Regions from separate parts of the Homo sapiens genome. Here region 2 is linked to region 1. Evidence: fine-mapped QTL for protein levels in blood plasma. Region 1 holds a variant in brackets. A gene starts in the other region. All regions are shown on their forward strands.

Region 1 (2,906 bases):
GTTCCACTGGGGAGGTGGACGCAGGTACCTGGGTTCCTGGGACCTGGGGAGGTGGGGGTTGGGACCTAAACTCCTGGGACTTGGGGAGGGAGAGGCTGGGGATGGGGTTCCTGGGTCCTGGGGAGGTTAGAGCTAGGGCCTGGATTCCCAGGTGTTGGAGTGGAGGGGGCTGGGGCTGGGGTTCCTGGGTCCTGGGGTGCTGAGGGATTAGGCCAGGCTCTCCCTGGGCCAGGCTCAGGTGGGAACACTGGCAGGCTGACGCATGTATCCTCTCTCAGGGTGTCTTGGCCATGGCGCCCTGGTGCTGCAACTCCTCTCCTTCATGCTCTTGGCTGGGGTCCTGGTGGCCATCCTTGTCCAAGGTCAGGGGCAGGTTCTGAGGGTCTGGGGTCCCCAGGCCTGGCCTTTTGGCTATGAACAGAGCCTGGAGTGGCCAGGTCTGGGAGGGAGGTGGGACTGAGAGCCAAGATGTTGTCCCTGGGGGTCTGTAGGGGCCTCTCCCACAGCCCCTCCCCACTCTAGAGCAGGACAGGAGAGGGAGGAGGAGGAGGGGAAGAACCTGGCTCTCCTTGGCCTTCTGTGCTGCCTTCTCCAGGTGTCAGTTTTCCTCATCTTCAAAGGGGATTAACTGAGACCTTGGCTCTCACAAATGATGTCTCTATGGGGCTCAGTTCAGGGCTTGGCACACAGTAGGTGTTTAATAATTGCAGTTCCTTTTCTTCTTGGCCCAGTGTCCAAGGTCCCCAGCTCCCTAAGTCAGGAACAATCCGAGCAAGACGCAATCTACCAGAACCTGACCCAGCTTAAAGCTGCAGTGGGTGAGCTCTCAGAGAAATCCAAGCTGCAGGAGATCTACCAGGAGCTGACCCAGCTGAAGGCTGCAGTGGGTGAGTTGCCAGAGAAATCCAAGCTGCAGGAGATCTACCAGGAGCTGACCCGGCTGAAGGCTGCAGTGGGTGAGTTGCCAGAGAAATCCAAGCTGCAGGAGATCTACCAGGAGCTGACCCGGCTGAAGGCTGCAGTGGGTGAGTTGCCAGAGAAATCCAAGCTGCAGGAGATCTACCAGGAGCTGACCCGGCTGAAGGCTGCAGTGGGTGAGTTGCCAGAGAAATCCAAGCTGCAGGAGATCTACCAGGAGCTGACGGAGCTGAAGGCTGCAGTGGGTGAGTTGCCAGAGAAATCCAAGCTGCAGGAGATCTACCAGGAGCTGACCCAGCTGAAGGCTGCAGTGGGTGAGTTGCCAGACCAGTCCAAGCAGCAGCAAATCTATCAAGAACTGACCGATTTGAAGACTGCATTTGGTGAGTTCCTGCACATCAAGGGTCCTTGGGCCTGAGATGGTCTCTGTGTGATGTGACTTTACTTGAGTTACC[A/G]ACCCTGCCTGAGCCTCAGTTTCCTCCCCTGTGAAATGAGAACACGGGGTAACTGCGATCATTGCACTTGGTGTTCACAGTGGGCCAGGCACACAGTAGACACTCAGTTCAACCAATCCGCTGCCTTCTGTTCTGAGCTCTAAAGCTGCTAATTCTCCCAGTCTGGAAGAGATGGAGCCAGGACTCCTGGGTTCTCCTGGGGATCAGGGAGAGTCTTGGGAAGTAGGGAGAGGAATGGTCTCTCCCCATTCCAAGCGGTCCACCCAACATGGACAGTCAAGGAAGGGCCCTGATTTTCAAGGGCTTGAAGGCTGGGCAGATATGGGAATATGGACAACCTAATCTGAGCCCAGCCCTGACCAGCCTCCCCCAACAGAACGCCTGTGCCGCCACTGTCCCAAGGACTGGACATTCTTCCAAGGAAACTGTTACTTCATGTCTAACTCCCAGCGGAACTGGCACGACTCCGTCACCGCCTGCCAGGAAGTGAGGGCCCAGCTCGTCGTAATCAAAACTGCTGAGGAGCAGGTACACGTGGTGGGGGTCCTCGTCCTGGCCTGGGGCATGGCTTCTGGCCAACTGGGGAGGAGGTGCTCAGAGAGGATTTTGCAGAAGAGGGGCTTTGCTCTATTTGGAAAGATGGGAAGAGAAGGATATGAATGAAGGGGTCCCAGGTACCCTTCAAGCAAATACAAACCAGATCTGAACACATGTGAATATTTGGGGGAAACGTCAAATGTAAGCAAACCACCACAGCATGCTGCAGGTGTTTAACGGCCAGCTCTCCGGAGAGAAAATTCCTGATGTGTTGTGTTTGCCAATTTCCCCAGTGTAAATATTTCCACTGCGGCTGATTTCAAGCTGTGATGTGCTGTCACTCAGTGCAGAGCTGAAAGGAGATGTGCTGGACCAGCAATTAGTAGTGGGTCCAATGTGGCTCCAGTACATGAAACCCAGTCAGGAGTAAATTCATGTGGACATGCAAAATAGATAAACATGCAGCATTCACAGGAGCACATGAGGAGAGGCCAGCTGTGCATGCGTGCCTGCATGTCAGGACACACATGCCATGGGGATACAGATGTGAGAGGGGCTCAGACATGAGGAGGCTCAGGACCTGCTATATCAGAAAACTGCAGGTTAACTTGAAAGCAGAACTTTCTGCCAAGAGACGGGGAGGTGGAACCTGGAAAATGGGAAGCAGAGCTCCCTCCTGACTCCTCCTCTACCCTCCAGAACTTCCTACAGCTGCAGACTTCCAGGAGTAACCGCTTCTCCTGGATGGGACTTTCAGACCTAAATCAGGAAGGCACGTGGCAATGGGTGGACGGCTCACCTCTGTCACCCAGGTAGATTCTGGGAGAAAGGGACACTGTATCCAGTCGGGCTGGGTTCCTGCAACTCTGACTTGAGCTTTCCCTGGGGGTCCCCCCCAACCTCCCTGACCCCATAGGACTAAGAGTCTGGGGTTTTACTGAGTTGAGGAAGGTGGTCTTCATACCCACCTCCAGACAGGATGAAAGGTGCCAAGAA
Region 2 (2,906 bases), not on the chromosome of region 1:
CTAGAATGAACCTGAATTTATTAATCCACCTTTATGAAGTGAAAGATTGAGAAGAATTTTCTGTGTTCTTAATTGCCTTTGCTCATCAAATTGCCCCCAAATTGCCCCCACTTGTAGAGTCTCCATGGCCTACTGTCTGCTAAAGTAAAGCAGAATCCCAGTCCTCGTTCCAGACCTGCCAAGTCAGAGTCTGTTTTCATGTGATTCTCACACACATTGGCATGTGAGAAGCACTGAGTTAGACCTTGGTGCTTGGCCCACCCTTGACCATGGTCCTCCTCTCTGAACAACGGAGGTGAGGAGACCAGTAGTAACAGCTGTGTCAGGAACAGGTCAGCACCCAGGGATCCACACAGACACTTTTGACCATTCCTAAGTCCTGCCTGCACAGGAAGTTGGCCACTAAAGATAGGCTGCCTGAAGGAAAGGACATAAGGACCTTTGCAAGCTGTTCAGCAGGGAGAAAAAGGGTGGAACAGGAAAGGGAGGAAAGCAAGTTTCTGGATTCCCCAAACCACAGTTTGTCTAGGTGCTACTTTCTCACTTTTCCTTATTTAGCACATAGCTTTGTCATGAGACATCTTTTTGCTGACCTCTTTTCCGTTTGCATTTTGCCCCATATTAGAATGCTACCATCTAAAACCGCTCCATGAATTAGAAAGTTTAAGTTGTCAGGGACTGAATGTGTCTGTTTTCCAACAGTTTCTGGCAGTTCCCTGCTTTTATGGTGTAGTCATGGTGAAACCTGAGTCATCTGAAGATGGTGGCAGTGCCAGAGAGCAGGAGAGAGGAGCTGCAAAGAAGCCAGACAGCGTTGGGCATCAATAACTCCTGGGCACCACCGGCCACTGGCCTTCATTCTGACAGGAGAGCCAACCCAACCCTAACTGTGTTCAGAGATTGCTCCAAGCTTTACAGTTCTACCAAATTCTTTCTGTAGCAAAAATATAAAGGCATCTTCTTAGGTAATTTTTTTTCAGGGTTCCAAGTAGCAACACCTAACGTCTGCAGTGCGAGTTCTCTTCTTCTTTTTTTTTTTAAGGTGATAAATCATAACATTTTCCTGGAAAGGAAAGCAGTAGACCTCATTTTTTGTTTTAAGGAAAAATAGTTTTTCTGTTTCCATTCATATACATTAAATAACTACCCAGGAAATACGCCCCGGTTTTGCGCGCGTGTGCGTGCGTGTGTGTGTGCGTGTGTGTGTGTGCCGTTTCTCTAAAATTCTGACTCATAGTCTGGAGGACAATGATTGACTTTTTTCCACTTCACATAGTTGCTATGAATTTCTCCTCACAAGGATGGGCCTGTTTACTCACCCTGGGCATCGTTGGTAGAGCGCTAGTGTAAACAGCCTGAGGAACCCGGTGGGCCGGGGAAGTGGGCGCGCTCTGTTCTCCGCGGCCAGCTGGGACGCCGGGCCAGGTGGGGCCGCCTGCGTTTAGCAACTGCTTTCTCACCCCCTGGATTTGCGATGTTTGCCACAGCAGCGAGAAGCGCCATTGTAATGGGGATGGGAGGGGTGGAGCCTCCAAGTCCTGTCTCAATTTAGATCTCTCACTCTGCTGTTAGGCGCGCCCATTTCAGATTACTAAACTCGAATTAAGAGGGAAAAAAAATCAGGGAGGAGGTGGCAAGCCACACCCCACGGTGCCCGCGAACTTCCCCGGCAGCGGACTGTAGCCCAGGCAGACGCCGTCGAGATGCAGGGCCCACCGCTCCTGACCGCCGCCCACCTCCTCTGCGTGTGCACCGCCGCGCTGGCCGTGGCTCCCGGGTAGGAACGTGGGCGCGCGGGGGGCGCGCGGGCGCGCGGGCCTGGGCCGCTCTGCGGCTCTGGGCCAGGGCTTCGGGGAGGTGGCGGCTGCTGTGCAGCAGCGGGTGGGAAATGCCCTCGCGGCTGCAGTCCCCAGCCTGGTACTGGCCTGGAGGTTTGACCATATGTAGCTTCAGCGTGGCTCTCCATGGGACAGTTAACTTTCTCCACTCATGAAGTTGTTTAAGCGTCTCCCCGGCCATAACAACTTTCTGAAGAGAGTCATTTTATTTTTAGTCCACATTGCCTCTGCCTTTTGCTTCTCAACTTTTTGCTCCCAGATTGCGATTCTTCTCTCAAAGACATGATATATTTTTTCTAACCAAGATGTCTCAACCTTAGCATTGCCAAAGTGTGGCGGAGGGGACTGATGTATGGGTTCAGGGGCAGACATTATAGGAAGAAAACAACAGCACCCAATAATGGCAAGCCCCATTCATTCCTAAAGATTTCTGTAGTTGAGCCCTAACCCCTAGTTATAGCAGAGAAAGTGCTGCTTTAGTGACTTCTTTTATGATTCGCTATACCTGGAATTTTCACCAGTTGTAGTTTATTTTCAAATGGTATATTTCAATCAATGGTATTGGTTAAATAATTTTTTACCCTCGTTGGGCAGCTACTCAAGGATAAAGGTTTGAATAAGAAACAGGCAAAATCTTAGTTAAAAAATAACAACAACAACAAGAAAATAATCACGCTGGGATAAGGTCCTCTGTAAAGGAGAAGCTTAGAGACTTTTGCTTTGCCAATAACTCCATTATGCCCCGGTGCAAGCCATTTACATCATGGTTCCTTCTGTGCGGTTCGTGGTTTATAAAATGGAAATAATAACACAGGCCTTCCTCTAGTAGTGATGCATGAATTACTGCATTAAAATTGATTTATGGGAATTATTGTTGTTTCAGTAGCATTTCAATTCAGTTGCCAAATAGAGCAGTGGGCAATGTTAACGGAAACAACTGCAATTGGCGCAGTATGGAGTGCCTATCGCACTAGGAAATCTGAGGGTCACAAAAGAAAGGAGATGTGAGGATAAGAAACTTTGTTTTTCCCTTGTTGGGAACTCTTTAGGCCTCGGTTTCTGGTGACA

Direction of the effects. Positions count from the first base shown, and alleles are read on the strand shown. Strength reflects both the effect of a copy and how common the allele is.
In carriers of allele G in region 1, the plasma level of the protein whose gene starts at base 1,691 in region 2 tends to be lower than with A alone (weak association).

The links. A credible set is the group of variants that fine-mapping cannot tell apart. PIP is the posterior inclusion probability: the model's chance that the variant is causal. The UK Biobank Pharma Proteomics Project read protein levels with antibody pairs (Olink). The fine-mapping took linkage between variants from a reference panel, not from the people measured, so its PIPs are less certain.
Region 2: it holds the start of CD109, and the variant in region 1 is the best candidate, but not a certain one, in a credible set for the plasma level of the CD109 protein (UK Biobank, PIP 0.51).

Annotation. Positions count from the first base shown.
Region 1 is chr19:7,764,907-7,767,812 of GRCh38, forward strand. It overlaps CLEC4M (C-type lectin domain family 4 member M), which reads left to right. Exons shown (of 7, transcript NM_014257.5): 3 at 279-362; 4 at 732-1,301; 5 at 1,750-1,901; 6 at 2,610-2,722. Among named protein-coding and RNA genes, the nearest start is that of CLEC4M, 3.1 kb to the left of the region's middle. The variant A/G (reference allele first, on the strand shown) is at 1,374.
Region 2 is chr6:73,694,513-73,697,418 of GRCh38, forward strand. CD109 (CD109 molecule) reads left to right here and starts at 1,691. Exons shown (of 33, transcript NM_133493.5): 1 at 1,691-1,777; 2 at 2,888-2,906. The coding sequence starts at 1,704. It overlaps CD109-AS1 (CD109 antisense RNA 1), which reads right to left and starts at 1,619. Exons shown (of 2, transcript NR_110889.1): 1 at 1,320-1,619; 2 at 1-1,063. RefSeq lists enhancers at 1,321-1,580, 1,534-2,248 and a silencer at 1,811-1,860.